7 separate regions of the Homo sapiens genome follow, and regions 2, 3, 4, 5, 6 and 7 are each reported to be linked to region 1. Evidence: microRNA targets listed by miRTarBase, many of them from high-throughput screens and not tested one by one. Region 1 holds a microRNA gene; each other region holds the end of a gene's coding sequence.
The links. Region 1 holds the annotated microRNA hsa-miR-4284 (GGGCUCACAUCACCCCAU, at 1,565-1,582, opposite strand). A microRNA usually pairs through its seed, bases 2 to 8, with sites in the 3' UTR of a target mRNA and lowers its output. Matches are read on the target gene's strand: a 7mer-m8 pairs with bases 2 to 8, a 7mer-A1 pairs with bases 2 to 7 and ends in A, and an 8mer does both.

Region 2: the mRNA of NAGK is a reported target of hsa-miR-4284. Seed matches in the 3' UTR shown: 7mer-m8 at 1,713-1,719.
Region 3: miRTarBase lists NFX1 as a target of hsa-miR-4284. The part of its 3' UTR that is shown has no 7-base or 8-base seed match.
Region 4: the mRNA of PHKG2 is a reported target of hsa-miR-4284. Seed matches in the 3' UTR shown: 8mer at 2,591-2,598 and 8mer at 2,113-2,120.
Region 5: the mRNA of RAB10 is a reported target of hsa-miR-4284. The part of its 3' UTR that is shown has no 7-base or 8-base seed match.
Region 6: the mRNA of RNF2 is a reported target of hsa-miR-4284. Seed matches in the 3' UTR shown: 7mer-A1 at 736-742.
Region 7: miRTarBase lists ZNF124 as a target of hsa-miR-4284. Seed matches in the 3' UTR shown: 8mer at 1,238-1,245.

Annotation. Positions count from the first base shown.
Region 1 is chr7:73,708,832-73,712,908 of GRCh38, reverse strand. MIR4284 (microRNA 4284) reads right to left here and starts at 1,592; the gene lies at 1,512-1,592. It overlaps STX1A (syntaxin 1A), which reads left to right. Exons shown (of 10, transcript NM_004603.4): 2 at 3,787-3,864.
Region 2 is chr2:71,078,012-71,082,011 of GRCh38, forward strand. It overlaps NAGK (N-acetylglucosamine kinase), which reads left to right. Exons shown (of 10, transcript NM_017567.6): 10 at 307-1,797. The coding sequence ends at 497. Among named protein-coding and RNA genes, the nearest start is that of NAGK, 11 kb to the left of the region's middle.
Region 3 is chr9:33,369,237-33,373,313 of GRCh38, forward strand. NFX1 (nuclear transcription factor, X-box binding 1) reads left to right here. Exons shown (of 24, transcript NM_002504.6): 24 at 670-1,921. The coding sequence ends at 742. Among named protein-coding and RNA genes, the nearest start is that of AQP7, 31 kb to the right of the region's middle. RefSeq lists an enhancer at 3,384-3,884.
Region 4 is chr16:30,756,872-30,760,948 of GRCh38, reverse strand. PHKG2 (phosphorylase kinase catalytic subunit gamma 2) reads right to left here. Exons shown (of 10, transcript NM_000294.3): 10 at 1-4,077. The coding sequence ends at 3,852. It overlaps CFAP119 (cilia and flagella associated protein 119), which reads left to right. Exons shown (of 9, transcript NM_001014979.3): 3 at 281-343; 4 at 496-665; 5 at 1,225-1,295; 6 at 1,491-1,607; 7 at 1,702-1,771; 8 at 1,848-1,937; 9 at 3,295-3,526. The coding sequence ends at 3,473. Among named protein-coding and RNA genes, the nearest start is that of CFAP119, 3.2 kb to the left of the region's middle. RefSeq lists enhancers at 1-962, 1,927-2,026.
Region 5 is chr2:26,134,727-26,138,803 of GRCh38, forward strand. RAB10 (RAB10, member RAS oncogene family) reads left to right here. Exons shown (of 6, transcript NM_016131.5): 6 at 212-2,728. The coding sequence ends at 295. Among named protein-coding and RNA genes, the nearest start is that of GAREM2, 36 kb to the right of the region's middle.
Region 6 is chr1:185,099,683-185,103,759 of GRCh38, forward strand. RNF2 (ring finger protein 2) reads left to right here. Exons shown (of 7, transcript NM_007212.4): 6 at 109-280; 7 at 518-2,921. The coding sequence ends at 619. Among named protein-coding and RNA genes, the nearest start is that of TRMT1L, 55 kb to the right of the region's middle.
Region 7 is chr1:247,152,760-247,156,836 of GRCh38, reverse strand. ZNF124 (zinc finger protein 124) reads left to right here. Exons shown (of 4, transcript NM_001297568.2): 4 at 1-1,848. The coding sequence ends at 271. Among named protein-coding and RNA genes, the nearest start is that of ZNF124, 17 kb to the left of the region's middle.

The DNA.
Region 1 (4,077 bases):
ATTCAGTTTGTGTGCTGTATGACAGGAGACAGAGGCACAGTGGAACAACTCTTGGGCAGGGGCTGTAATTTGGGGTCCCTGGGAAGGATCTGAAAGGGAAGGAATACTTAAAAAGAAAAATCTAGGGAGGATGTGGATGCCGCCTTCAAATCTATAGCAGGGGTACCCCAGGGAGAGGGCACCCACAGGTTCTTTATGGCCTGGAACCAAACCACAGGGAAGAGAAGGACTCTAACAGTTGGGGCTGCCCGAGATGGGCAGAGCTGTCTGGGGAAGCTAGTGAGCTCACTGTCACAGGAGGTTTGCAAGCTGAGGCTGGCAGCTGAAGCCAGGGGGACTTTTCAGGTCCCTTAGGGCCTGAGAGTTTTCAGCCATGGCTCCAATAGGAATGTGAATGGCGTGTGGAAGAACAAGGTGCGAGATACTGATTTGGGGGGGCAGGGAGGCTTCTGGAAGGAGGTGGCATCGAGGAAGAAGGGAATGTCACCTTCATGGAATCAGCATCCCGGGCAAAGGGATGTGCCTGGGGGAAGTTGGGGGCAGAGGGTGGATTGTAGGGCCAGGAACCAGTTGTAGGTGTGGGGGAGTGGGGTCTGATCCCAGGGGAGGGCAGCAGGATAAAGAGCAGAGCTGGGGGTGAAAATTCCCAAGAACGAAGAAGTAGAAGGACGTGGGGAGGAAAGGCCCACTTCGCCCATCCCCTCTAGGTTTTGCTTGGAGCTGTGGCTGGTTTGACCATGCCTCAGAGGTCAGGCCCTCAGCCCCCCGACTGGCTTTGGGGCCAATCTCAATGCCACCTCCAGGGTAGACTTGACCTGCGTGCCCCCATCTACCCTGGCCCTGATCTCCCTTTCCCCAGCCCTACCCTCATAGACGGAGGGTCCAGAGGAGGATGCGGGCATCTCTCCTCCCAGCCCTTCTGTTAGAGAAGCTTCCTGGTCCAGCCTTCAGCCTTCTGGGAAGGTAGCAGGTCAGAGCTGGCCGGATGCCTGGAGAAGATCTGCCCTCATTACACAGATGGGCAAGCTGAGGTCAAGAGAGGCACCAGACAGGTGCCAGGGGTCTCTGAGGGCAGGACAGGGGTTCGGTGGGGCTGGCAGTGACGCTCGTCTCTGGCCACGGAAAAGGAGCTGGATAATTCTCCATCCACCCTTTGTCATCTACCCTGATCCTCTGAGCACCAGGGCAGAGAGGGCAGGACACTGAATGGCAGGAGCTCCTGGGGCCACTTCCCAACCTGGCAGCCTGCCCAGGAGGAGGAACTGGGCTCCTCCTGGCAGTGCTCTGCCTCAGTTTCCCTAGGGAGGGCTCCTCTGACTCAACTCCTAGGCCTGTCACGGTCTAAAAGCGTGAAAACGGCTCCTGGATTTTCTGTGTCTGTAGGGAGCTTGGTGGGGGAGGGGGTACCACCTGGTGACAGCCCCAGGCACTCGGTGGGGAGTGGGAACGAGGATTTATTTTAGCTGCTGGGGAGGTGGTACGATATCTTAAAGAGAGGAGGCCCCTCTGAGCCGCCTCTATCAAAGCTCCTAACTACCCCCTCTCCCCATGAGTCCCCACTTTGATGGGGTGATGTGAGCCCCTCACAGAACATGCTCAGGCCGGGCATGGTGGCGGCTCACACCTATACTCCCAGCACTTTGGGAAGCCAAGGTGGGAAGATCACTTGAGCCCAAGAGTTTGAGACCAGACTGGGCAACATAGTTTGACCCTGTCGCTACAAAAAAAAAAAAAAAATCAAAAAGTAGCTGGGTGTGGTGGCATGCATCTGATGCATCTGTAGTCCCAGCTGCTTGGGAGGCTGAAGTGAAAGGATGGCTTGAGCCCGGGAGGTTGAGGCTACAGGGAGTTATGATTGTGCCACTGCACTCCAGCCTGGGTGACAGAGCGAGACCCTGTCTCAATCAATCAATCAGTCCATCCATCAATCAAACAAACATACCTGCCCTGCTTCCCCACTTTTTCTCAGCCCTCCCTCCATGCAGCCAGGTGTCACTGTCCCCATTTCACAGAAGAGTAAATAGAGCCAGAGGGGTTAAGGCCCAGCCTGATGAGTCCCATCAGTTCTCTCAGCCCCTCAACCTCCACCTGCCTCCGTCCTGACGCGAGAGCACCGAGGTGGGGTCAGTGCTGAGCTAGTCAGTGGCCACTCCCGTGAGGCACTCAGAAATGAGGTGGGAACAAGATCAGATGTGGTGGTTCACGCCTGTAATCCCAGTACTTTGGGAGGCCGAGGCGGGTGGATCACCTGAGGTCAGGAGTTCGAGACCGGCCTGGCCAACATAGTGAAACCTGTCTCTACTAAAAATACAAAAATTAGCTGGGCATGGTGGCATGCACCTGTAATCCCAGCTACTCGGGAGGCTGAGGCAGGAGAATTGCTTGAACCCAGGAGGTGGAGGTTGCAGTGAGCCAAGATCACACCACTGCACTCCAGCCTAGGTGACAGTGCGAGACTCTCTCAAAAAATAAAAAAATAAAAATAAAAGAGGTGGGAACAAGCCCTGAGCCCCAGGCTGAGAGACCTCAGTCCCTGCCCCAGGGTGGCCACCCCGGATATCCTTGCCTTGGCTGCAGAGAGAGACCTGGCCTTGCCAGCAGCGTGGGCTGACCCTGGCCAACTGGCGGTATGAGGCAGACAGTAATAATTGTGCGCAGCATGCTGGGAAGTCAGAAGTATGATTACCCCTGCCCCACGATGGGGGTGGCTTTTGTACAGCTGGTCCTGGGACAGTGGAGTGGGGCTTGTAACTGTGGCTGAGGCCTAAGGCAGGACCCAAGCCAAGTGGCAACATGACTGTCCCCTTGTGCCTGCTGGGCCCAGGTCTGGGGACTGGAAGGAGGCAGACCGAGGTCCAATGGCAAGACCGACAGGGAGGCCAAGTGCAGTGGCTCACACCTACAATCCCAGTGCTTTGGAAGGCTGAGGCAGGAGGATCGCTTGAGGCCAGGAGTTCAAGACCAGCCTGGGTAACACAGTGAGACCCCCGTCTCTACAAAAATAAAAATTAAATTTAAAAACTGTTTTAAAAAAAGACTCACAGGAGATTCCTAAGAGATCTGATCCGTGCCACCTCGGGACTGGGGTTTAGTGGTGCCCAGGGCTGGGACACAGTAGGCAGGTCTCCCCTTATAGGGCCCACTCTGGAAAGGGAGCTTGGGACCTCTGGGCTCCACCTGAATTAAAACCACTGGAGCCAGGCATGGTTGTGGAAACCTATAATTCCAGCTACTCGGGATGCTGAGTTGGGAGGATCGCTTGAGCCCAGGTGTTTAAGGCTGCAGTGAGCTGTGATTGCACCCCTGCACTCCAGCCTGGGTGACACAGCAAGACCTCAACTCTACAGATGTGTGTATGTGTTTGTGTGTGTGTGTGTAAACCACAGGGCCAGGAGAGTAGAGAATGCACTTTCCAGGCAGCTGTCCTAGGGGCCTAGGGGACCCAGAGGGCCCAGACAGAGCGGCCGGCCCCAGGCTCGCTTGCCTCCCCAGCCACAGGGAGGGGGCAGGCAGATAGGTGAGGGAGGAAGTCCCTGGCCCAGAGGCTGAGACTTGGCCTTGACACCAGTGTATCAGGCAAGGTTCCTCTCTCTGTGCCGGGCCCCCAGTGGTCCTCCAGATCTTACTGTGGCTGGGAGCGGAACAGCCAGGCCTGTTCTTGTCCCTGCCCAGAGGCCCCCAGGGAGAGGGGGAGGGGCAGGGCCCTGGCGCTGTACCCTGGGCACCTGCGTGTGTACAGGTGGGTCCTGTACATACGTCCACTTATGTGTGCACAACCCCGCACAGGCCAAGGACAGCGATGATGATGATGATGTCGCTGTCACCGTGGACCGAGACCGCTTCATGGATGAGTTCTTTGAGCAGGTGGGAGCCAGCACACCCCACCCTTCCCGCACACTGGCAGAACTTGGGGGGCCACTCTCGCCTCTGAGCCAGGTTCAGTGCTCTTTCACACCTGCACCTGGCTCAGCAGCTCCGGGGTGCCAACGAATGAACCGTTTTGAGGGTGAATAGATGGAAGCTCAGAGCGGAGCTAAATCTGGGATCACACTCCTCCCCATCTGGGTCTGGAAGGAT
Region 2 (4,000 bases), not on the chromosome of region 1:
GCCTTATGCCAGGCAGTTGGATGGTTTCTACCGGACATTCTGAAGTAGCTCAAGGACTCCCATTGCTACCATGGAATTCCTGGCATTGGGTCCTTTGGAGCTGAGAGGAGAGCAGGCCCCCTATGTTGCTGGCTCCAATACTCGAGTACCCAGTGCACCCTGTGTGCTGGGCACTTGGCATGTAGGCCCCTCCAGCATCTCTACAGGAGTACCTCAGGGTCTGGGCGTCCTTGTCTGTCTTCCTTCCTGGCCCCAGTACAGGTTGCTGTTCTCCTCTTATCTCTGTCCTTGTGTTCTTCCCTCCAGGTTTTCTTCTGGCGCTGACCCAGGGCAGAGAGATCCAGGCTCAGAACTTCTTCTCCAGCTTCACCCTGATGAAGCTGAGGCACTCCTCCGCTCTGGGTGGGGCCAGCCTAGGGGCCAGGCACATCGGGCACCTCCTCCCCATGGACTATAGCGCCAATGCCATTGCCTTCTATTCCTACACCTTTTCCTAGGGGGCTGGTCCCGGCTCCACCCCCTCCAAGCTCAGTGGACACTGGGTCTGAAAGGAAGGAGTCTTTTGCTTCCTTTCTCCTTTTTACAAAAACAAACATAGAAGAAAATAAATGCACTTTATCCACTCCCCAATTGGACTGCATTATCAAACACATGTGCTATGTACATCCTCAGTGCACCTGCCAGCAGATATCCTGGAGGGCTCATGAGTGAATTTAGTCCAAGATTTAAAGCCCTGCCCCCAGGTGCTCAGCCTGTGATCTGTATCCACTCAGCATGCACTTGGGCAGATGATTTGTCTGTGTGCTACCCTTCCCCCCATATTACCATACATATGCACTGTGTGGCTGCCAGTTAATCTGTGACCTGTTTTCTCCTGTCGTGTCAAGTGGGTAACGATCCCTGGCGACCACAGTCAGCAGAAACAAGTGCTCACCATTCAGAACATCACAGGGAGTAACCTTAGGTATATCACACCCTCTCCTGAGACTCCCAGCAAGATTTAGGGGCTAGAGTACAATTCTAGACTGGGAGCATCTTTACCTCACTGGATTTAGTAACTGCAGGTAAGCAGGACATTTTGAAGTTTTTCCTATGAATGAGTTTTTGAAAGGTTATGAGGATGGCTGAGATCCAAGAAGACCAACTAGGTACCGCTCACCTCGGTAGCTGACCTATTCCTGGCTACTACTAGCCTGGCTCTGCTTACAGCGTGACACTATGTGTTGTGTGTTCCTGGGAATGAGGAGCATCAGTGAAGAGCAGACATGATTCCTGCCCTCTGGGTACCATAGTTCAGCCAGTGAAGGCAAACCTGAAGCTTCGGTTCCACAGCCTGTGCTGCTTGGTGAAGACTAAGGACAGGAGTCTCGATCCACAATAGCTGCCTCTCCAGGTGTTTTATTAGAGGCATGTGGATCATGTCCTGCACATCAGTTCTCCAACTTACAGACATCAGTTATTCTAGAGTTTGTTTTAAAACACGGTTTTGGCCGGGCACGGTGGCTCACGCCTGTAATCCCAGCACTTTGGGAGGCCGAGGCAGGTGGATCACGAGGTCAGGAGATTGAGACCATCCTGGCTAACACGGTGAAACTCCATCTCTACTAAAAAATACAAAAAATTAACCGGGCGTGGTGTCGCGCGCCTGTAGTCCCAGCTACTGGGGAGGCTGAGGCAGGAGAATGGCATGAACCCAGGAGGTGGAGCTTGCAGTGAGCCGAGGTCGCACCACTGCACTCCAGCCTGGGCGACAGAGCGAGACTCTGCCTCAAAAAATAATAAATAAAAATAAAATCAGGTTTTTGTCTACTCCCCTCCCCTGCCCTAAGGTATCTGATGATAATAGGTTAAGGATGGGATGGGGAATTTTCATTTCTATTATACTGAACAGCTTGAGTAATTTCTGCTGCAGAGGTCCAGCATCTGCACTTGAGGGAGTGCTATGCTACAGCTGGTAAGTTCTGATTAGGCCTTCTAAGACATCTTGAATACTATCTTGTTGCCCAAGTCGGATGATGCTGTTCTTTCACAGTGTAGCATTCACGTAGAACAGAATAGTAACAGCTCTCCTTCCATCAGCTCTAGCCCAGTGCTGCAAGCTGGAGCTTTGAGCAATAAGAACTCCAGCCAGGTCCCTTCTGAAAGAACAGCCAGCCATCTTCACATCCAGCTATGACCAAATCACTGTGGTCTAGCACTCAGCAAGTCTCCAGTCCAGCACCTGGTAAAAAGCTTGCAGAGAGAACAAGGACACAGCAGAGGCATCTTTGCTATATCCCACAGTCTTGAAAAACTGTTAGGTTATTAATGAGTGGTGAGCTTTGGAGATTTTTTTAAATAATGCTCTCAGGATGAGGATCAAACAGCATTTTGGTGAAAAGAGTTTATAACTACTGAGACCTACTTATGTTCTTCAGAATATGGCCATCACTTTTCCTTAGAATTGTCTAGACTGCAATTCCAATTGGACAGTGGAGGTTTTAGTGGAGGAGCACATCTTGATTTTTTTAGTCCCAGCATAGAAATGTTGAAAAAAATGCTGAAAAAAGGTAGTATTAAAGTGCATAAGGTCAGATGTGTTCCTAGTTCCTGTCACATTTAGGAGATGTGATGAGGTCACTTCCCAGTTATTAAAGCTCTATTAGGCTGCAGTGCAGAAAATCGCAAGTGATTTTTTAAAATTTATTTTAGAGGTGAGGTCTTATTCTTGCCTAGGCTAGAGTGCTGTGGCACTATCATAGCTCACTGCAGCATTGAATTCCTGAGCTCAAGTGATCCACCTCAGCCTTCCAAGTAGCTGGGAGTACAGACATGTACCACCACACCTGGCTAATTCTGTCATTTTTTTGTAGAGATGGGTCTTGCTATGTTGCCCAGGTTGGTCTCAAACTCCTGGCTTCAAGCAATCCTGCTGTCTTGGGCTCCCAAAGTGCTGGAATTATAGGTGTGAGCCACCATGCCCAGCCCAAAAGTGATTTTTGCTGAGTTTCTCCCCTTTTATTATTTTATTTTATTTTATTTTATTTATTTTATTTTATTTTATTTTATTTTATTTTATTTTATTTTATTTTATTTTATTTTATTTTATTTTATTTTATTTTATTTTTGAGACAGAGTCTCACTCTGTTGCCCAGGCTGGAGTGCAGTGGTGTGATAACGGCTCACTGCGACCTCTGCCTCCCAGGTTCAAGTGATTCTCCTGCCTCAGTCTCCCAAGTAGCTGGGATTACAGGCATGCAACACCACGCCCTGCTAATTTTTTTGTATTTTTTAGTAGAGTTGGGGTTTTGCCATGTTGGCCAGGCTGGTCTCAAACTCCTGACCTCAGGTGATCTGCCCGTCTTGGCCTCCCAAAGTGCTGGGATTACAAGCGTGAACCACTGTGCCCGGCCTTCTCCCCCTTTAATTTTAAACTTATAGTGTCCCCCAACAAACTATCAGAAGAAATTCATGGGATTTTGTATCACCAAGGCATTAAGAGATGTATACAGTCCTCTCATCTGAGCCTGTAACAGCCCTGTGATGAGACAAGAGAGCTTGGAACAAGCATTGGAATGAGGCTAGCACTGCCTTATCTCCCTGTGTGATCACAGGGATAGTACAGCTTCATCTGTCCCTTTCATTCAGCAAACATTTATTGAATGTCTTGCAGGTGTGATGAGTACTCTAAGCATTAAAAGTAAGTACACCAAGGCCAGGCGTGGTGGCTCATGCCTGTAATCCCAACACTTTGGAAGGCTGAGGCAGGCAGATCACGAGGTCAAGAGATCGAGACCATCCTGGCCCACATGGTGAAACTCCATCTCTACTAAAAATACAAAAATTAGCTGGGCGTGGTGGGGCGCACCTGTAGTCCCAGCTACTCGGCAGGCTGAGGCAGGAGAATCACTTGAACCCAAGAGGCGGAGGTTGCAGTGAGCCGAGATCACGCCACTGCACTCCAACCGGGTGACAAAGCAAGACTCCGTCTCAAAAAAATAAATAAGTACACCAGGCCGGG
Region 3 (4,077 bases), not on the chromosome of region 1:
TTGTATTTTTAGTAGAAACGGGGTTTCACCATGTGTTAGGATGGTCTCAATCTCCTGACCTCGTGATCCGTCCGCCTTGGCCTCCCAAAGTGCTGAGATTACAGGCGTGAGCCACCACACCTGGCCATCCCATGCTATCTTTTTAAAAACCCTTGGCTTGCTTTATTTTTGTATAAAACTCTATTATGGAAATGTTTTAGAGTAGAGAGAATAGTATTACTATCATAAATGCCCATGTGCCCATTACCAAATTTCAAAATCACCAGCTCATGTTTGTCCCACTATCAAAACTTCACAAGTGAGATGCTCGCTTGGCTTAAGCTGTTAACTGAGCATTCATTGAACTGTGAAGGCAGAGTAAAATCATCATCATATATGAAATCCTGTAAATAGATTGTGAAAGGTTACCTCTAAACTGTAAAGTGTAAATAGAGAATTTGTTATCTCACAGAATAAAATTCCCCATGTAATATGTAAATCTAGAAGGAAACACAAAAGTTAAAAAAATTGCTCACAAAGGGCAGAAGGAAAAAAAGTAAGACTAAAATAAAAATAAAATAAATGTTTAAGATTCACAAATGGTAAATCAGCTGATCCTTAACTTTCTGAAGTCCTGTATCTGTTTCCCCCAAAGAAGAAAAGACTGATCATTCTTTGTTTGTTTTTCAGGAATCCTGGGAGCAGTAATTTACAGAAAATAACCAAGGAGCCAATAATTGACTATTTTGACGTCCAGGACTAAGAAGATCATGATGCACTTAGATAAAAGAATGATTAGGTATAGTGGAGACTTATTTGCCAGCAGATAAATCATGCCCGTTCCCCTCTGCCTGGCAGAATCACAGTCTCACATACTGTCTTGTACTGACACATCCAAAGCATGAGTGTGTCAGAAATCCCTTGTCTATTCCTGTCTGTATAAAGTGTTTCATTATGACCAGATCTCTGATTGTATGGTCACTAGGTATGCAATCACGCATTCAAAGAGGCTCTTTACACCATCACTGTGATTGCTCTGAGAGTTGAGGGACTATTGGGCTTTATTTGGACAAACCAAACTTTTAGCCTGAAACCAACTTTATGCCACTAAGTCATAGCCTCAGTTGTCCCAGTTATTTGTCCTCCTGAAAATGCCTGAAACATCAGACAGACATTGCTTGCTTTACCCAAACTGATCAAAATCTTTAGGAGCACAAATGAATTTTTTAGTCTGAAATACCAAATAATGAATTGGTATACCATATCCGGAATCACACATGTTATCTTAAACCCAGCCATCATACCTAAGTCTTTTGCCAAAACCTCTCATAGGTATATCTAGCTGAACTTATTTTGGCATTTTCAATGTGATCAGTTCTAGACCTAGAAGGGGGTCAGGCTGCTTTACAGAATTCTATTTCCTTAAGTCCCTGGCACTTCTCATACCACATCACTGAACCTGTTCAGTAACAATCAGTTTGGCCGTCCCCCATGATGGTAGGAAATATAGAGAGCAAGTTCTTCTGCCAGGGTCACACTGTGGTCTCTGAACTGACCAGTATATCCCTAACTCCTCTTTGATAGAGAAAGAGTCTCAAATGGACAACTGTCCTGTGTTGCTTTCCCTAGGCCTTCAGCAGCCTATTGGCTCTCCCTGCCTCTGAGCTCTGGACTCTGTTTGAATATTCCAAGTAGTATATGGACAGTCCAGGGCTTATGCCCAGCAGCCCACTGGAGGCATTCTTCAGGCTCCTTTAAGGCAGGTGCATTGATAGTTCCATTAGTGTGACCCTTGCATTGGCACCCCTCCAGCCTGGAGGCCAGGCTTCCAGCAACTTCCTTCTGCCCTAGAGCAAGCCATGAGCCCCAGAGCAGTAGCAGGAGACTTGAGAAGTAGAGTGACAAAAACAAGCACTTAATTAAATTATAAAATTTAACTTTATAGGGCTGCCTTTTGGTGTTTTCATTTTTTTATTTCTTTTCATTTTTTTTCCTCAATCCTCCTCCTCCTGTAGCAGGGCTGTCCTTTGGTCCTTACCCAGTCTGCTTCAAAAGGGATCAGGTACAGCAGCAGGAACAGGTGACTGGAGGGAAGTGACACAAAACAAAACCACCTCTCTCTGGACCCATGTAGTGCAGGTCAGTGGCCCCACACACAACAGGAAGCCCATGAGCATCTGTTACCTCTTTCAAGCAGTGGGTTCAGTGGGTGAATAGTACGTGTGAGAGTATCTCAGAATCAGCAAAAGGCAGGAGACCTGACTTCAGATTCTAGCTGTGCCACATAATTTGCCGCTTGATGCGATGAAAGTTTCACTGACCTCATTAGGGTTATGAAGATTAAAGGAGTAATACACGTGGAGGTACCTGATCCTCAAAGTTCATAAAAATGATACTTAGTATCTAGAAAATATGTACACATCTTCCTCCATAATACTAGCCAAGTAGAAGGTGTGGAATGCTAACCAGGCCTCTTCTGGTGAATATTTGCATGCCTACCCTGTGCCAGCCTTGTGCCAGGGCTGTGGGAAGCAGCCTGGTTTCGTACATTTAGTAATCCAGGGAGGACACACGTGAACAGATGTTCTCAGTGGAATTGGCTAGTCTGCCACCAACAGGTTGTTAATCGGTTATTAAAAGCTGAAGAGTCCTAAGAGGAATATTTTGTGAAGTTGCGGTAGAAATGGGTTAGCTCTGGGGGTCAGAGCAGGACACGTGTGGGAAAGTGAAATGGGAGGAAGCATTTGAGCTGAGGCTTGAGATGGTAGGCTGCCATTTGGAGGAGGAAAGAGGCCCATGCTGAGAGAAGGTAAACAGCAGGAGACAGGGCTGGGGGAATGGTTGAGTAAGGGTTGTCCAGAGCAGGCAGACAACTAGGGGCACAGGTGATGAGGCTGGACAGGTGGACAGGGGTCAGCTCGTGGAGAGCCACAGGGAGTGACAAGAATTCTAAGCAGAGTGGCATGGCCAGATTTAGGATCTAGACCAGGATTCAGCAAATGTTTTGTGAAAAAAGATCAGATAGTAAATATTGTAGACTGTGAGACTTATAGTTTCTGTTGCAGCTATCCAACTCTGCCATCGTAGTGTGAAAGCAGCCGTAGACAATATGCAAATGAAAAGAGTAAGGCTCTGTTCTAATGCTTTATTTGTGCACACCGAAATAATTTCATATGATTTTTATGTCACAAAATATTCTTTTGACTTTTTTCCCCAACGATTTATAAACATAAAAACCATTCTTAGCTCATGAGTTGTGCAAAAACAGGCAGCAGGCTAGATTTGACCAGGGACTTTATTTTACCCACCCTGTTCTGGAGCAGTCCCTCAGGCAGAAGAGTATAGAAGGGATTGGAGGGCTACTTGGAGGCAGGAAGCTCAGCCAGGAAGCTGCAGAAGTGATCCGGGTGAGAGAAAATGAGGGTGATGGGGGTTGGCACTGCAAAGAGGGAAGAGATTCAGATCAGGGAGGTAGGATTGGATGCCAGAGGTTAGCGGGAGAACTAGCCCCCCTCATATCACCAAGGGGAGACCCCCGGTCTCCTCAGCAAGGGGAAGCTGCTGCTTGTAGCTTTGGTGGATTCCTCACTGAGCAGTGGCACTGGACAAGAGTGTACAGGAGCATGAGCTAGACGGGAAGACCCCTGTGCCTCCACCACCCCATGCATGGAGGGAGGGCACCAGGACCCCAAGCTGTTGCTCCCTGAGAATCAGGTGGTAACTTCTCTCCCTGCTCCCATACTCTCTTTCAGCAGGAGAGTTTTTATGGGCTAGAGCTTTCCAGCGACCAAATTCTTCTCTCTGAAATTCCCTCTGGCTTGTTTGGCAGGGCCGGCTGTTCTCAATAGTGTTACCTGCCTGGCATGCAATAGTGGGTGTGTGCGGGACTGTGGAGATGAGAGCAGGCCCTCCTAATTGCAGGTCTGTTGGCCACAGCCCTAGATCCTGTCTTGGAGAGGCCAGAGAAGGTGGCAGGGGAGGAGGAGGAGGAGGAGTGTCAGTCTTGAGGGAGGGGGAAGGGCAAAGACTCGCTCACTGAGTCCTATAGATTAAGGTTTGGGGGAGAATCCCTCCTGTGTAGTGCTGGCCTTCCTTCTT
Region 4 (4,077 bases), not on the chromosome of region 1:
GGACACTGAGGGCCACAGGGAGTACTTGACCAAGGTCATACAAGGTAGTGGCAGAGCAGAAAAAAGAATTCAAGATTCCTAACCCTAGGCTTTAGAAATGGAGAGGCTCATAAGAGTTCATTTAGGCCCAGAGAGTTAACGATTTGCATAGTCACACAGCAAGCTGGCAAAAGAGCCCAGCTTCACGCCGGTGGCCAACTCCCAGTCTCACGCACTAGCTGTCACAGCCTTGTCATGATAGGTAACGGCCACCAATACTCTTTTTCTTTTACTATAACAGGAAGTACCTGGACGTCCATTCCATGCACCAGCTGGAGAAGACCACCAATGCTGAGATGAGGGAGTAGGGACTGAGGGGGGCGTGGGAAGAGCTCTTGGCAAAGGCTGAGGGGTCAGGTTGGGAAAACATGAGGAATGGCTGACTCCAAAGCATGTGGTGGGTGTAGGGTGATGAAAGGAGGCCCAGTTGTCACTCACTCCTCTCTCCCTCCCAAGGGTGCTGGCTGAGCTGCTGGAGCTAGGGTGTCCTGAGCAGAGCCTGAGGGACGCCATCACCCTGGACCTCTTCTGCCACGCGCTCATTTTCTGCCGCCAGCAGGGCTTCTCACTGGAGCAGACGTCAGCGGCTTGTGCCCTGCTCCAGGATCTTCACAAGGCTTGTATTGGTGAGAGGGGGCAGCTACCAGGTTTGAGCCCCAGGGAGAAGAGGAACCGGGCCTGGCACAAGTGACCATGGGAAGCAGAAGCAGGGGATTTCTGCCTGGAATATGTCATTATTAGTAGCATCATCATACACAAGCCATCAGCTTTCCAATCCACTGCTTCCTTATCTAGAAATTAAGGATACAGCACACATTTTACAGGACTGTTCTGAGAAATAATATATGCAAATATATGCATAGTGCACAATAACACCTGCTTTAGAATGTTTAATAGCTCTTGCTTCAGAATGTTTAATAGCTGAAATGATCTATTTCTTGGTTTATTCCCCTAGAATATAAGCTTCGTAAGGGCAGGACCTTGTCTGTCTTGTTCAGTGCCGAAAACCATACAGTGGGCATATAGTGGGTATTCAGTATTTGTTACATGAGTTAAGGAAACAAGCCAGTGCTGAAACCCAGATCTGTCTGCTTCTGAAGCTCATGGTCATAAACAGCTGTTGAGTGAAGTGAATGAATGGATACCAGAGAGGGCCTCACTGCTGCATCTTGCTTTCCCTACCAGCAACCCCCTTGGGCAACGTGGAGGAGTGCTACCGCTACTTCACCAGTGTCCTTTTTTGCCATGGAGTCAGGGTCAGTTCCCCTGGAACATTCTGGAAACTTTACCCATCCCCAGACAAGGTCTCACCCAGTCTCTCTCACATTCATCACCCTTATCTTCTTGTGAAGACCCCAGTGGGCTCTCCTTGCTCCTGTTGCTGGGCTTTTGGAGGCAAAGCCAGGGCTCCGGAAGGTAGTCAGGGTTCTAATTCCGAGTCACCACCACAGCGGCCTCCTTTCAGCATCGACCTCTTCAAAGAGGAACAGCTGCTGGCCTTGGAAGACTACGTGGTCAACACTTACTTCCGCCACTTCAAGCTCTATAAATACGTCTTCACACCCCAGGTAGGGGGTGGTGGACCATGAGGAGCCACCCTCAACCGCCCCTCCCCTCAGCACAGGTGCACTCCTTTCAGCCTCCCTCTGCCTTGCTTCCCAGGTGCGGCTGGATCTGTCTTTGACTTACATGGGGCTACAGCCACCCAAACTGTGGCCAGAGAGTGAGACGGGTAAGGGAGAGTGCCAGGGCAGGGCTGGGCTGGGCCAGGCCTGGGGCCACAGTCTCTTCCTGCTTCTGGTTTGCAGAGAAAGAAGAAAGCAAGGAGATGGAGGAGCAGGCAGTTACCCCGCAGAAAGAGGAACTAGAGACAGTGGCCCCACCAGAGCCAGAGCCAAGTGAGGATCTGGAGAGGGCAGGCTGCCCTGTCCCTCTGAGCAGGTGTAGAATGAAGGGTTTGGATGACATCAGGACTTCAGACTTTTTGTTTTTAGTCAGAGTCCTTTCTCTAAATGATCCCTTATGCAGAAGTCCAAGATGACAGATAAAAGCACAGCTGCAGGCCAGGCGTGGTGGCTCACACCTGTAATCCCAGCACAATCTGAGGCAGGCGGATTGCCTGAGCTCAGGAGTTCGCGACCAGCCTGGGCAACACCGTGAAACCCCCTATCTACTAAAATACAAAAAATAGCCAGGCATGGTGGTGCGCGCTTGTAGTCCCAGCTACTCAGGAGGCTGAGGCAGGAGAACTGCATGAACCCAGGAGGTGGAGACTGCAGTGAGCCAAGATCTGGCCACTGCACTCCAGCCTGGGCAACAGAGCAAGACTCTGTCTCAAAACAAACAAACAAACAAACAAAAAGCACAGCTGAAGTGGCTCCAGAGAAATGATCATTAGAAAGCCAATGACGGTGGCTTAAAACCTATATGATGGGTTGATGGGTAAAGCAAACCACCATGGCCCATGTATACCTACGTAGCAAACCTGCATGTTCTGCTCGTATCCCAGAACTTAAGAGTTAAAAAAAAACAAAGAACAGGCCAGGTGCAGTGGCTCACAACTGTAATCCCAGCACTTTGGGAGGCTGAGGCAGGCGGATCACGAGGTCAGGAGATCGAGTCCATCCTGGCTAACACTGTGAAACCCCGTCTCTACTAAAAATACAAAAAGTTAGCCGGGCGTGGTGGCGGGTGCCTGTAGTCCCAGCTACTGGGAGGCTGAGGCAGGAGAATGGCATGAACCTGGGAGGCAGAGCTTGCAGTGAGCTGAGATCGCTGCCACTGCACTCCAGCCTGGGGGATAAAGCAAGACTCCATCTCAAAAAAAAAAAAAAAAAGAGAAAGCCAATGACAATAACAGCCAGCACATACTTGGCAATAGGTGTGCAGTGCATGCCCTGCTCTAAGCATTTTACATAAATTAACTCATTTAATCCTCCCTCAATCCTATGTGCTAGGTATCACTATCCACATTTCATACAAGGAAACTGAGGCACAGATAGGTTAAATAACCTGCCTAAGGTCACACAGCTACTGAGTAGGGATCAGAATTTGAAGCTGCAAAGTCCAGCATAGCCACCCTACCCAACTACCTCTCACACAAGGGCTTGCTAACATTTCCTAAAGGGAAACAACATTGCTACCTCTATATCCCCACCAGGGGAAATTTGGGGACTGTTTGCCCAACTAGGGACCATCCCCCCATTGCCAGACAGCATCTCTCCTCACCCTGCCCCTTCTTCCCTGCCCCTGCAGGCCACATCCACGTCCTCCGAGCCTACATCAAGACCCAAGTGAACAAAGAGCTGGAGCAGCTCCAGGGGCTGGTGGAGGAGCGGCTCAAGGCCAGCGAGGAAAGGCTCAGCAGCAAGTTGACTGCACTAGAGCGGCCCTTCCAGCTACCTCCGGGTAAAGGCAAGAGCAAGACCAAGTGACCCCCAACATTTTCCCCAATAAAGGTCTGGGCCAGAATGGCACCATCCCTGCACCCTGCTGAGCACCTTCTGGGCTTTCCTGCCCAAGCCAGACAGACACAGGACACCTGTTCTCCCTGGCGTGTAGCAGATTTTATTTCATATGCAGTGCATGCAGCACTGACCGGGCCAGGCGTGGCGTTCAGAATGGCTCCCTTCCACCCCAGCTCTGATCTCAGAGTCCTGGCCAGTGGGGAGAGAGGTACCGGGCTGGTCTTCAAGAGGGTAGCAGGATCATTAGTGGGCCTGAGGCCAGAGGCCAGAGCCCAGAGGAGCTGGAATGATCAAAACCCTTCTTCTGGAGAGTTCTGCTTCCTGGGAATCCCTGGGGTTGAGGTCCTAGCCCAGCACAAGCACGGCCTCATCCTCAGTTATAGCAGCAGAGTCTCCCTCCTCTTCAGGGCCCATGATGGGAAAAGGCCCAGGGGGCCGGTGCTGAAAGAGAGCCGCCCGGTTCTGCTGCTCCCCTTTCTTTACCCAGTGCCCGTAGAGCCGGAAGGCACAGTTGTCGATGAGGTGCCGCACTGACCGCAGCGCATAAGGGTCCCTCAACAGTGCATTCTTG
Region 5 (4,077 bases), not on the chromosome of region 1:
TCTACAATATTTCACAGCTTGGAGGAAGCAGGCAAAAAGAAAATCAAAACAAAGCTTCCAAATCTTTACTTTGCACGGAGGGGAAACCTATCTCCTGTGATTGTAGTTGTATTTTGTTGTATAAATTGACATAAGAATATTCCTGTTGAATCGTGATTTTATCCATGGCAGTGTTTTTTCATGAGTTATTTTCCTTGTGTGTTTGTTGCAGACCCCTGTAAAAGAGCCCAACAGTGAAAATGTAGATATCAGCAGTGGAGGAGGCGTGACAGGCTGGAAGAGCAAATGCTGCTGAGCATTCTCCTGTTCCATCAGTTGCCATCCACTACCCCGTTTTCTCTTCTTGCTGCAAAATAAACCACTCTGTCCATTTTTAACTCTAAACAGATATTTTTGTTTCTCATCTTAACTATCCAAGCCACCTATTTTATTTGTTCTTTCATCTGTGACTGCTTGCTGACTTTATCATAATTTTCTTCAAACAAAAAAATGTATAGAAAAATCATGTCTGTGAGTTCATTTTTAAATGTACTTGCTCAGCTCAACTGCATTTCAGTTGTATTATAGTCCAGTTCTTATCAACATTAAAACCTATAGCAATCATTTCAAATCTATTCTGCAAATTGTATAAGAATAAAGTTAGAATTAACAATTTTATTTTGTACAACAGTGGAATTTTCTGTCATGGATAATGTGCTTGAGTCCCTATAATCTATAGACATGTGATAGCAAAAGAAACAAACAAAAGCCAGGAAAACACTCATTTTCGCCTTGAATATGTAAATGGGATTAATTTTGTCCTGTGCCTTATGTGGAAAGGAACTTCTTTGGTTTTCCTTTTTTGTTCTGGTGGAAGCATGTGCAGGAGACATATCATCCAAACATAAACCATTAAAATGTTTGTGGTTTGCTTGGCTGTAATTTTCAAAGTAGTTAATTGAGGACAAAGGGTAATGCAGAAGTGATAGCTTTGGTTTGCTGAGTCTTGTTTTAAGTGGCCTTGATATTTAAAACTATTCCTGCCACCATTTCTTCTCCTTGGCCACTTCTTCCTTGCGTCTCCCTGCATGCTGCTTTATTTGCTTCTCCCTCCCCAACCACCTCATGGTATATTTAAGAGTGAAAGGGACAAACTAGTAGGTTTGTCAAGTTTAATATAAAGCACTGATGTAACTTGCTAGGTAAACGGAAAGATAAGTTCTAACTGCCTACTATCCAATGTCAGTTAATTGGTGTCTTCCCCCCTCATTTGCTCTCTTCCCTAAAATGTGTCCCAGATGCCTTCATTTGCTGTTTTACTTCTATGTTCTGCTTTTCCTCCTCTCTTTGTTCCCTTCCTGTCTATCCATTGAGTTTATGAAATGGAAGAGTTAACTGCATGCACTAGTGTTTGGAGGGTGTTGTGGTTTGTCTTTCTAATTAGGTGTATAGCCTATTCACTTTCCTAGAATAAATCTCTTAACCTAAATTTGAGTAGTCTGCATTTTGGCAACTCCTCTAGCAGCTTGGTAGCCTAGTACAGGTTGTTTTTTTAAAAAAGGAAAAGCAGGAAGGAGGAGTGAATTTTATTAACATGTTTGCCAAATGTATTGAGATTTGGCCTCTGAAGAACACTTTTTCAGTGTTAAGTTTCTTTACCTTAAGATTCAGAAATACTTTAGAATATTATTAATTTTAAGTCCTGTCTTTACATCCTTTTGGAAAACTTGTATTACCATGGGTTTGGAAAAAGGACAACGAAAGGCTTTTCATGTAAAGATAAGATCTTTAGCTATCTCTAACCCTGTCCTTTTTTCACTGCATTTTTTCTAGTTTTGCTTCATTGCTTATCATTAGGATAGGGTAAGTGAAGTTTGCTATGCTGCTAGCATCCTAAGATGATACCTTTGTTGAAAGAATTGTGAATAGCATGATTCATTTCTAGCAGAGGCTGAGTTTAGGACAGCAGCTTCCATTGAGAAGTCTTTCTGTGTCGTGAATAGCATTTTAATGACCTCTTGGCTCACATAAGCAAACAACATAGGGACGTATCTGCTATGAAAATCCACAAATTTTTCAGATAGTGCCCTAAAAACAATTTTATATGCCTCACTGGTTGTTATTCTTAGGTTATTCCCACACTTGACTTTATCATTGTTTACTACTAGTAAAAAGCAGCATTGCCAAATAATCCCTAATTTTCCACTAAAAATATAATGAAATGATGTTAAGCTTTTTGAAAAGTTTAGGTTAAACCTACTGTTGTTAGATTAATGTATTTGTTGCTTCCCTTTATCTGGAATGTGGCATTAGCTTTTTTATTTTAACCCTCTTTAATTCTTATTCAATTCCATGACTTAAGGTTGGAGAGCTAAACACTGGGATTTTTGGATAACAGACTGACAGTTTTGCATAATTATAATCGGCATTGTACATAGAAAGGATATGGCTACCTTTTGTTAAATCTGCACTTTCTAAATATCAAAAAAGGGAAATGAAGTATAAATCAATTTTTGTATAATCTGTTTGAAACATGAGTTTTATTTGCTTAATATTAGGGCTTTGCCCCTTTTCTGTAAGTCTCTTGGGATCCTGTGTAGAAGCTGTTCTCATTAAACACCAAACAGTTAAGTCCATTCTCTGGTACTAGCTACAAATTCGGTTTCATATTCTACTTAACAATTTAAATAAACTGAAATATTTCTAGATGGTCTACTTCTGTTCATATAAAAACAAAACTTGATTTCCAGCTGTGTGGTTTGGTTTTCATTTATTTATGGAATTGGAAGATTACTTCTGAAAAAAATGTGGAATCGCAAACTCAAAGAGTTGACAAAAATGGGAAATCACTGTCAACCTATGGAAAACTGGAAAGGCAATTTCAAGAACTGTCTTTGCTGAGAAACTACATTAAAAAATAGAATTATCTCTGGGATCCTAAAGCGGAATCATCCTTGTGCCAAAATAGGAGATGCCACGATCCTAATCACACCTGGCTTACACTAGTTGGATGTGCCTAAGGCCACTACAGCTGAGGTCACCTGATTCCTCAGGGGGACCAAGCTGGGCTCCTCATACTGGAGGGTAAATCCTTGTTTTAGCAGCAGCTGGCCTCTTACTAAGAAACAAAGTATTGGCCAGGTGCGGTGGCTCATGCCTGTAATCCCAGCACTTTGGGAGGTCAAGGCGGACGGATCACGAAGTCAGGAGATGGAGACCATCCTGGCTAACGTGGTAAAACCCCGTCTCTATTAAAAATACAAAAAAATTAGCCGGGCGTGGTGGCGGGCGCCTGTAGTCCCAGCTACTCGGGAGGCTGAGGCAGGAGAATGGCGTGAACCCGGGAGGAGGAGGAGGAGGCTGCAGTGAGCCGAGATAGCGCCACTGCACTCCAGCCTGGGCGACAGAGCAAGACTCCGTCTCAAAAAAAAAAAAAAAAAAAAAAAAGTATTGGCTGGGCGCTGTGGCTCACGCCTGTAATCCCAGCACTTTGGGAGGCCGAGGCGGGTGGATCACCTGAGGTCAGGAGTTCAAGACCAGCCTGGCCAACATGATGAAACCCCGTCTCTACTAAAAATACTAAAAGCCGGGCGTGGTGGCGCATACCTGTAATCCCAGCTACTTGGGAGGCTGAGGCAGGAGAATCACTTGAACCCAGGAGGCAGAGGTTGCAGTGAGCCGAGATCGCACCACAGCACTCCAGCCTGGGCTATAGAGCAAGACTCCTTCTCAAAAAAAAAAAAACAAAAAACAGTATTTCCTGCTTTTGTTATACATAGCAACAGCCTTGTCTTTATGTGTAGGGAAAAGAAATGTTTGATCCTATATTCAGGCTTTATTAGTCAATAATAAAGATAAATATTTGTTGACAAGATTGTCTCTGCTGAAAGTATATGTAGAGTTTTTCTCAGATGCAGTGATTTTAAGAATCACATGGAGTGTTTTTAATGTTCTATTCCTTCCCCCCAACATACTTGTTTTGTTGGGACCTACAATTCTGCCTTTGCTGGGTGCAGTGGCTCACGCCTATAATCCCAACACTTTGGAAGGCCAAGGCGGGTGGATCACCTGAGGTCAGGACTTCGAGACCAGCCTGGC
Region 6 (4,077 bases), not on the chromosome of region 1:
ATTGCCATTTTACTTAGTTTTTAAGAAATGTATTAGTTCCATAATTTAAGTACATTTTTCTCATTGGCATATTCTAGAAATGAAATTTTTAATGATTTATTCTTCTAGATACATAAAGACTTCTGGTAACGCCACTGTTGATCACTTATCCAAGTATCTGGCTGTGAGGTTAGCTTTAGAAGAACTTCGAAGCAAAGGTGAATCAAACCAGATGAACCTTGATACAGCCAGTGAGAAGCAGTATACCATTTATATAGCAACAGCCAGTGGCCAGTTCACTGTGAGTATTTAAAATAATAGACTGTTGAAACTGGGAGCACACTGACCAACTAACTGAGTGGCAAGTGGTGGGGTAGAATCTAATAAATAATGTAAAAAACCGTAACAGTGTTAAGTGACAAGTAGTTATTCCTAAGATTTGAAAAAAAAAGATTCTGTGGACTTCCATTTTAGTTTCATTTCATTATTATTGTGGTTTGTGCAGTTTTCATAATTTTTTCTTTCTTTTTTGTTTTAGGTATTAAATGGCTCTTTTTCTTTGGAATTGGTCAGTGAGAAATACTGGAAAGTGAACAAACCCATGGAACTTTATTACGCACCTACAAAGGAGCACAAATGAGCCTTTAAAAACCAATTCTGAGACTGAACTTTTTTATAGCCTATTTCTTTAATATTAAAGATGTACTGGCATTACTTTTATGGACAGATCTTGGATATGTTGTTCAATTTTCTTTCTGAGCCAGACTAGTTTACGCTATTCAAATCTTTTCCCCTTTATTTAAGATTTCCTTTTTGGAAGGGACTGCAATTATTCAGTATTTTTTTCTTTCCTTTAAAAAAATATATCTGAAGTTTCTTGTGTTTTTTTTTTTCCCCACAAAGTGTGTTTCCACTTGGAGCACCATTTTGACCCAGGAATTTTTCATAGTTTCTGTATTCTTATAAGATTCAGTTGGCTGTCCTTTTCCTGCTCCCCTCAAAAGATTTTTAGTCATACAGAATGTTAAATATTATGTATTCTGACTTTTTTTTTCCCCCGGAGTCTTGTATATTTATAGTTTTCTATATAAACTGTAGTATCTTCATGAAGACCCAAGGCTCAAATTTACTGTCCTTAAAAACAATTCTCATAGGATTATTCTTTTCATGGTATTTTCTTCCATAATATCTCATTTTAAAAAGAAGTTCTTTATGAACTTAGTGTCCATTGTCATGCAATGTTTTTTTTTTTCCATTCTTTTTCCCTGTAATTTTGGAATTTCTGGTCCTGGGAAGAATCAAACAAAATCTTAAGTTCTATGAGAACTTGGTTCATTGACATATTCTGCTGAAGAAAGAAAAATTAAATTGGTAGTAAAATATAGTCTTCAAGTATACGTTTGAGAGTGCTTTTTTTTGTATTAGTTCTGCTGTCACTTCATTTCCTGTATTATATGTGATGTTTTTCCCCATTAAAATACCAGAGATAATGGAGATATTTTGCACTTTAGCCTTGATGAAAAGTACAAGATATGTTCAAAGCTTCCCTAATTTTTTTCTTATTTGTAGCCACATAAGTTTCAAGAATAACATGGCACACAGAACAATGGAAAAAAGTTTGTTTCCATTGGAAAATTATATCATTTTGGGTTGCCACATCAGTTTATAAATTTGGCGCTCTTTTAATTACACTCTGTAGAAGGTTAATAGAGCTTGAGCCCTGCTTTAATATGTAGTGAAAGATAATTCTGTAGAAAAACGTCAGCCAGTAGGGTAAAGTCATTCTACTGTTCTTAATTTTTATATTGAGGAACAATATTGGGTGTTTGGGAGCCAGAAAGCTTTGTTGACAGATCAGAAATAAGATTGACTTGGGTGTTATATTTCATCTCTCTCCAGACTCTAGGTATATTTCCAACTTTATATATCACAGTATTTAAAAAGACATGTTTGCATTGAGAAATTAACCCTAAAGGGTTTTCAATAGGGTGTAGACCTCCAGTACCTTTGTAACTAAAGTCTGTCTAGTCATTGTAAATATTTATCTGTCAGTTTTGACAGATTGGGGCCAGCTTGATGTTTTAAATCTTCAGCCCGGTATGAAAACTTAAAGGTATATATTCAATTTTTTACCATTTTATGGAAAATATTTAAAATCTGTTTTTACAGGGTTTTTTTTTTTTTTTTTTTTTTGTAATCTGTGCCATGAAATTTGAAAACCACCAAAAATCAAGGGAACTTTTATATATTCAATTCCTTTTCTGGTGTAATGTTAAAGTTGTATAGATTATTAATGCATGCCCACTGAATATAACCCTGGTTTTGTGATAAAACTGCTTAGATTTTGTTGATGACATTAGATTAGTAGTTGCATTAAATAACTAAATTCCCATTGTGATTAATTGAAATTTTGTCTTTAAGCAGAGAGTTATTTGTGACTATAAGCTTTGTGCTTAGAGAATGTATGTGTTTTTATCTGTCAGTATGGGAGGATATAAACTGCATCATTAGTGAAATTATTGGTTGTGTAATCCTTTGTGAAATATAATTCTAGGTATTTGATAGGGTATTGAGTGTATTTTGTGTGTGTGTGGATGTGTGTTTTGGGGTACGGGGAGAGGCGATGCTATTGGCCATCACTACCAACCAGGGTTTCAAAAAGTATTACCTAAGTAATTTCTTTTATCACTATCTCAACTGAGGAAGAAAAGGCTCACCACAAGTGGTGTGAAGGCTTTGGGTACTTAGTTCTAAATTTTTTTATGGTAACATATACATAGCCACATTTACAGTTTTAACCATTTTAAGGCATGTAATTCAGTGGGGTTAGGTACATTCACAATGTTGTGTAATGATCACCGCTGTCTACTTGTAAAACTTTTTCATCACCCCAAACAGAAACTCTGTGTGCAATTAAAGTAATGCATTTCTCTTCTTCTTAACCCCTAGCAACCTCTATTCTACTTTCTCTTTTTGAATTTGTCTATTTTAGGTGCCTCATGGCACCTGTGGAATCACACATTATTTTCAAGGTTCATGTGATAGCATATATCAGAATTTCATTCCTATTTATGGCTGAATAATATTGTATGTATGTGCCACATTTTGTTTATCCATTCATCTGTTGATGGAGACTTTTGGTATTGTGAATAATACTGCAGTGAACATTATTATAGAAGTATATAATTGAGTTCTGCCTTCTGTTATTTTGGGTATATATGAAGGAATAGAATTACTGCATCATATGATAATTCTATGTTTAATTTTTTGAGGGACTCCAAACTGTTTTCCATAGCAGCTTCATTATTTTACATTCCTGCCACCAATGAACAAGCGTTCTGGCTTTTCCGTATCCTCTGTAACACTTGTTATTTTCTTTTCTTCTTTTTAAAATAACTATATTAATGGGTATCCTTATGATAGCTGTCTTACTGGATGTCTCCTTTCATTGTGGTTTTAATTTGCATTTCCCTAACAGCTTGTGATGCTGAGCATCTTTTTCTGTACTTGCTGGCCATTTGTGTATTTTCTGTGGAGAAATGTGTATGTGTATTCAAGTCCTTCACCCATTTTTGACTGGGTTCTGTTATTGTTGAGTTGTGGGCATTCTTTATTCTAGTTAGTAATCCATTATCAGATACATGATTTGCAAATATTTTCTCCCATTCTTTGGGTTTTCTTTTGATTCCCTTGATAGTGTCCTTTGATGTACAGAATTTTTTTTATTTTGGTGAAGTCTAGTGTATCTGTCTTTTTTCTTTTGGCTATGCTATTGGTGTCATATTCAAGAAGATTGCCAAACCCAATGTCATGAAGATTTTCCTCTTTTAAGAGTTTTATAGTTTTAGCTCTTAGTCTTTGATCCATTGTGAGTTTTGTATATGGTGAAAGGTCAGTGTCCAGCTTTGTTCATTTGTATTTGGATATCCAGTTTTCTTAGCCTTTTCTCCACTGAATGATCTTGGTGCTCTTGTTCTAAATCATATGTGAGGGTTTATTTCTGGATGTTGTATTCCATTGGTCTATATGTTTGTCCTTATGCCAGTACTACACTATTTTGATTACTTTAGCTTTGTAATAAATTTTGCATTATATCAT
Region 7 (4,077 bases), not on the chromosome of region 1:
TCCATGTAAGCAATGTGGGAAAGCCTTCAGATACGCCAGTTCCCTTCAGAAACACGAGAAAACTCATATTGCACAGAAACCCTATGTATGTAACAATTGTGGTAAAGGCTTCAGATGTTCCAGTTCCCTTCGTGACCATGAAAGGACTCATACTGGAGAGAAACCCTATGAATGTCAGAAATGTGGCAAAGCCTTTAGTCGTGCTAGTACCCTTTGGAAGCATAAAAAAACTCATACTGGAGAAAAGCCCTATAAATGTAAAAAAATGTAAAGGCTTTAATCACTACAGTTTTTGTCAAAAACATGAACAGTCACATACTTGAGAGAAACTGTGAATGTAAGGTGTAGGAAAGTACTTAATTTTCCCAGATTTCCTCAAATACATGAAACGAATCAAACTGGAGATAAACCCTATGACTATAAGCAATAAGGTAAAGCATTCAATTTTTCCATTTCTTTTTGAAAACTTGAAAGGACTCACTGAAGAAAATCCATATGAATGTTTAAAATGTGGTAAGGCCTGCAGTTGTTCCAGTGGTATTTGATGGTATAACATAACTCATTCTAGAGAAAAACTTTATGAAGGTATCGAATGTGAGAATGCCTTCATTTATCCTATAACTCACTCAGAGACACATGGTAACACATACTCCAGATTGACCTTATAAATAAAAGAATGCCCACCAGATTGAAATCCTAGAAATACAGAAAATTCTGAATTTTAACAATTACTTTAAAGGTCATGTGAAAACTCCCACTGGAAATAAATCCTGTAAATGTAAATATTATGGAAAACCTTATGGAAAATAATTATAGTACAATTCTCAAGAAAATTCACTATGTGAATGAGATGTTTTAGGAGCTATAAATAAATTGAATATATTGGTTGCTCATTTTTGAAGAGAGTCTCTAGAATATAGATTTTCACTTCTTTTGAAAAAAAAAAAATTGAGGTGAGACTTTTTTTTTTTTTTTTGAGATGGAGTCTCACTTTGTCGCCCAGGCTGGTGTGCAGTGGCACAATCTCAGTTCACTGTAAGCTCTGCCTCCCAGGTTCACGCCATTCTCCTGCCTCAGCCTCCTGAGTAGCTGGGACTACAGGTGCCTGCCACCATGCCCAGCTAATTTTTTGTATTTTTAGTAGAGATGGGGTTTCACCGTGTTAGCCAGGATGGTCTCAATCTCCTGACCTCGTGATCCGCCCGCTTCAGCCTCCCAAAGTGCTGGGATTACAGGCGTGAGCCACCACGCCCAGCTGAGGCAAGACTTCTGTAAGTATTCTTCAAGCAGTAGTACAAGAGTTAAATATGTATTCTTCTTTTTTAAGCTGGTAAATAAATTTCCTTTTTCTACCCATTTTAAAGTGTGTTGGTTATATGGGTAAATTGAAATGTATTTCTTTTCCTTTTTTCTTGCATAGCCATTTTAAAAAATATTTTTTAAATATTTAAAGTATAAAATATTTTTAAAATTTTTTAAAAATTTTGTGGGTTACACAGTAGATGTGTGAAATGTATTTGTAGGTTTAACTTCTGTGTAGTTTAATTATTTTGTTATTAATTGGCCATTGATAAATGAGTCTATTTTCTTTGCTAATAGAGTTGCTGTCAATTTGTAAGTATGTAAAGTTTATTATAGAGTATATTCTCACGTGAATTATTATTTTCATCTGTTGTTCTTTACATTGTCATTATTTTTGGCTATTTGCATAGGTAACATTGGTTTAAGGAGAGAGACCTGTGATCGAACAGTGTCTTGTGTCTAATCTGAGAAAGAAAGCATCCAGTCTTATCATCATGTATGATGTTAGCTGAGGGTTTTTAAAATAAATTCCTTAAAGCAGGTTGAGAAAGTTTCCTGCTGTTCATTATTATTGAATATTTCATTGTCAAGTGTTGTTGAAGTTTTTCTCATGGTTTTTGTGCATCTATTGGAATGATCTTGTGGTTTTTCAAATTTATTCTGTTAACATGGTATATCACATTAATTGACTTTCTAAAATAAGAAATTGGGTCTAACTTTGTCACCCAGGCTGGTCTCAAACTCCTGGGCTCAAGTGATTCTCCTGCCTTGCCCTCTCAAAGTGTTGGGATTACAGATGTGAGCCACTGTGCCCAGCCAAATTGACTTTTAGATGCAAAAACAACATTGCTTTTTTGGGGGGTTAAATCTCTCTTGGTAATGAAGTGTAAGTCTTCTTATATATTGGTAAATTCAGTTTTGTAGCATCTTTTGAGACATTTTGCATCTATATTGAAAGAAATTTGAGTACCCTAGCATAGTTTATAGTGCTATATACTATATAGTGTTATTTCATATATATGTAGTTTATTAGTTCATTCTTGAACTGCTATGAAGAAATTCCTGAGACTGGGCAATTTACAAAGGAAAGAGATTTAATTGACTCCCAGTTCAGCATGGTAGGGAGGCCTCAGGAAACTTACAGTCCTGGCAGAAGGTGAAGGGGAAGCAAGGCATCTTCACAAATTCACAAGGTGGCAGGAAGGAGAAGTACAAGCAGGGAAAATGCCAGATTCTTATAAAACCATCAGATCTCATGAGACTCACTCATTATCATGAGAACAGCACGGGGGAAACCGTCCCCATGATTCAGTTACCTCCACCTGGTCTTGCCCTTGACACGTGGGAATTATTACAAGTCAAGGTGAGATTTGGGTGGGGACACGGAGCCAACTTATATCTGTGTGTGTGTGTGTGTCACACATATGCGTGTACAAGGAGACATCCACTCTGGGGAGAATTAGGTATCTCAGACAGTTGCCTGACAAGTGATTGTTGTGTAGGAAAGCATAGTGACCTTGTGTTTTCTGTGCTGCTTTTTCTCTTGCTGCTGTTATGTGCACTCTTCTGATGAGGTGCATATCCATAGATCCTCATGATTTAGGTGCAGATGAGCAAAGACAAGGGAAATAATCACTTTATATTATCCTCTCCCAGTACCCCTCCCAGTACTAAACTCCTAGCCAAAGGGGGCTTTCGTTAGCATGGCTGCTCACCAGCATTCTAAAGATATAATCCTGTGACCACAAGACTTGATGAACTTAGACAAAATGACCTTCTTATGGACGCTAACTTCAGCAAGATTTAGTAGCCCTCACTGGAGGCTTAGGTGGTTTTCTCCACTGTGGGTTGCTGGGGTTCTGAACTCTTTCCCTTAATCACACAGATGGTCTACACTGTCTGTTTCCAGGTAGAGATAGTACCTGAAACCTGTAACTTTACATGAGTAGAAATCCGAAATGTTATAAGGCAATTGTTACAGCAAGAAAGGAAAAGACTAGTTATGTGATGTGCTCACATCCAGAAATCTAATAGCAGATGACTCACCAATCATAATAGAGCATGTCAGTTAAAGGCACTCCGTGACTTCAGTCCAGACAGGATCAAGTCCCCACTCTACTCCTGTCCAGTGTCTGAATTTAGACAAATGACTTACCCTCTCGATGTTTAAGTTCTCATCCTGATAATGGCAGCACCTACCTCACAGATTTGTGAAGAATAGAAAGTTACTACATGGCTGCTCATCACAACAGTGATGAATACATTGCAGGGACACTTTAACTGGTGTACATTTACATGTTGGAAACCTTTTAATAATTGAAAAAAATCAAGTAACATTTCTAAGGGTGAAACTAATGGTCAGTGCAGAGTATTGGATTTTATTTGACCTTTTTTTTTTTTTTGAGATGGAGTCTCACTCTGTTGCCCAGGCTGGAGTGCAGTGGCGCAATCTCAGCTTACTGCAACCTCCACCTCCCGGGTTCAAGCGATTCTCCTGCCTCAGCCTCCCGAGTAGCTGGAACTACAGGTGCCCGTCAGCACACCCAGCTAATTTTTTGTATTTTTAGTAGAGTTGGAGTTTCACCGTGTTAGCCAGGATGGTCTTGATCTCCTGACCTCGTGATCCGCCCGCCTTGGCCTCCCAAAGCTAGATAAGTAATTTTAAAATCCCTTAATCTTCTCAGAAGTACATGGGTTGTATATGTTTGTTCAGTGCTCATATGTTTATTCACTCATCTCCATAGAACTGTAAACATAATTACAAAATAGTAACAT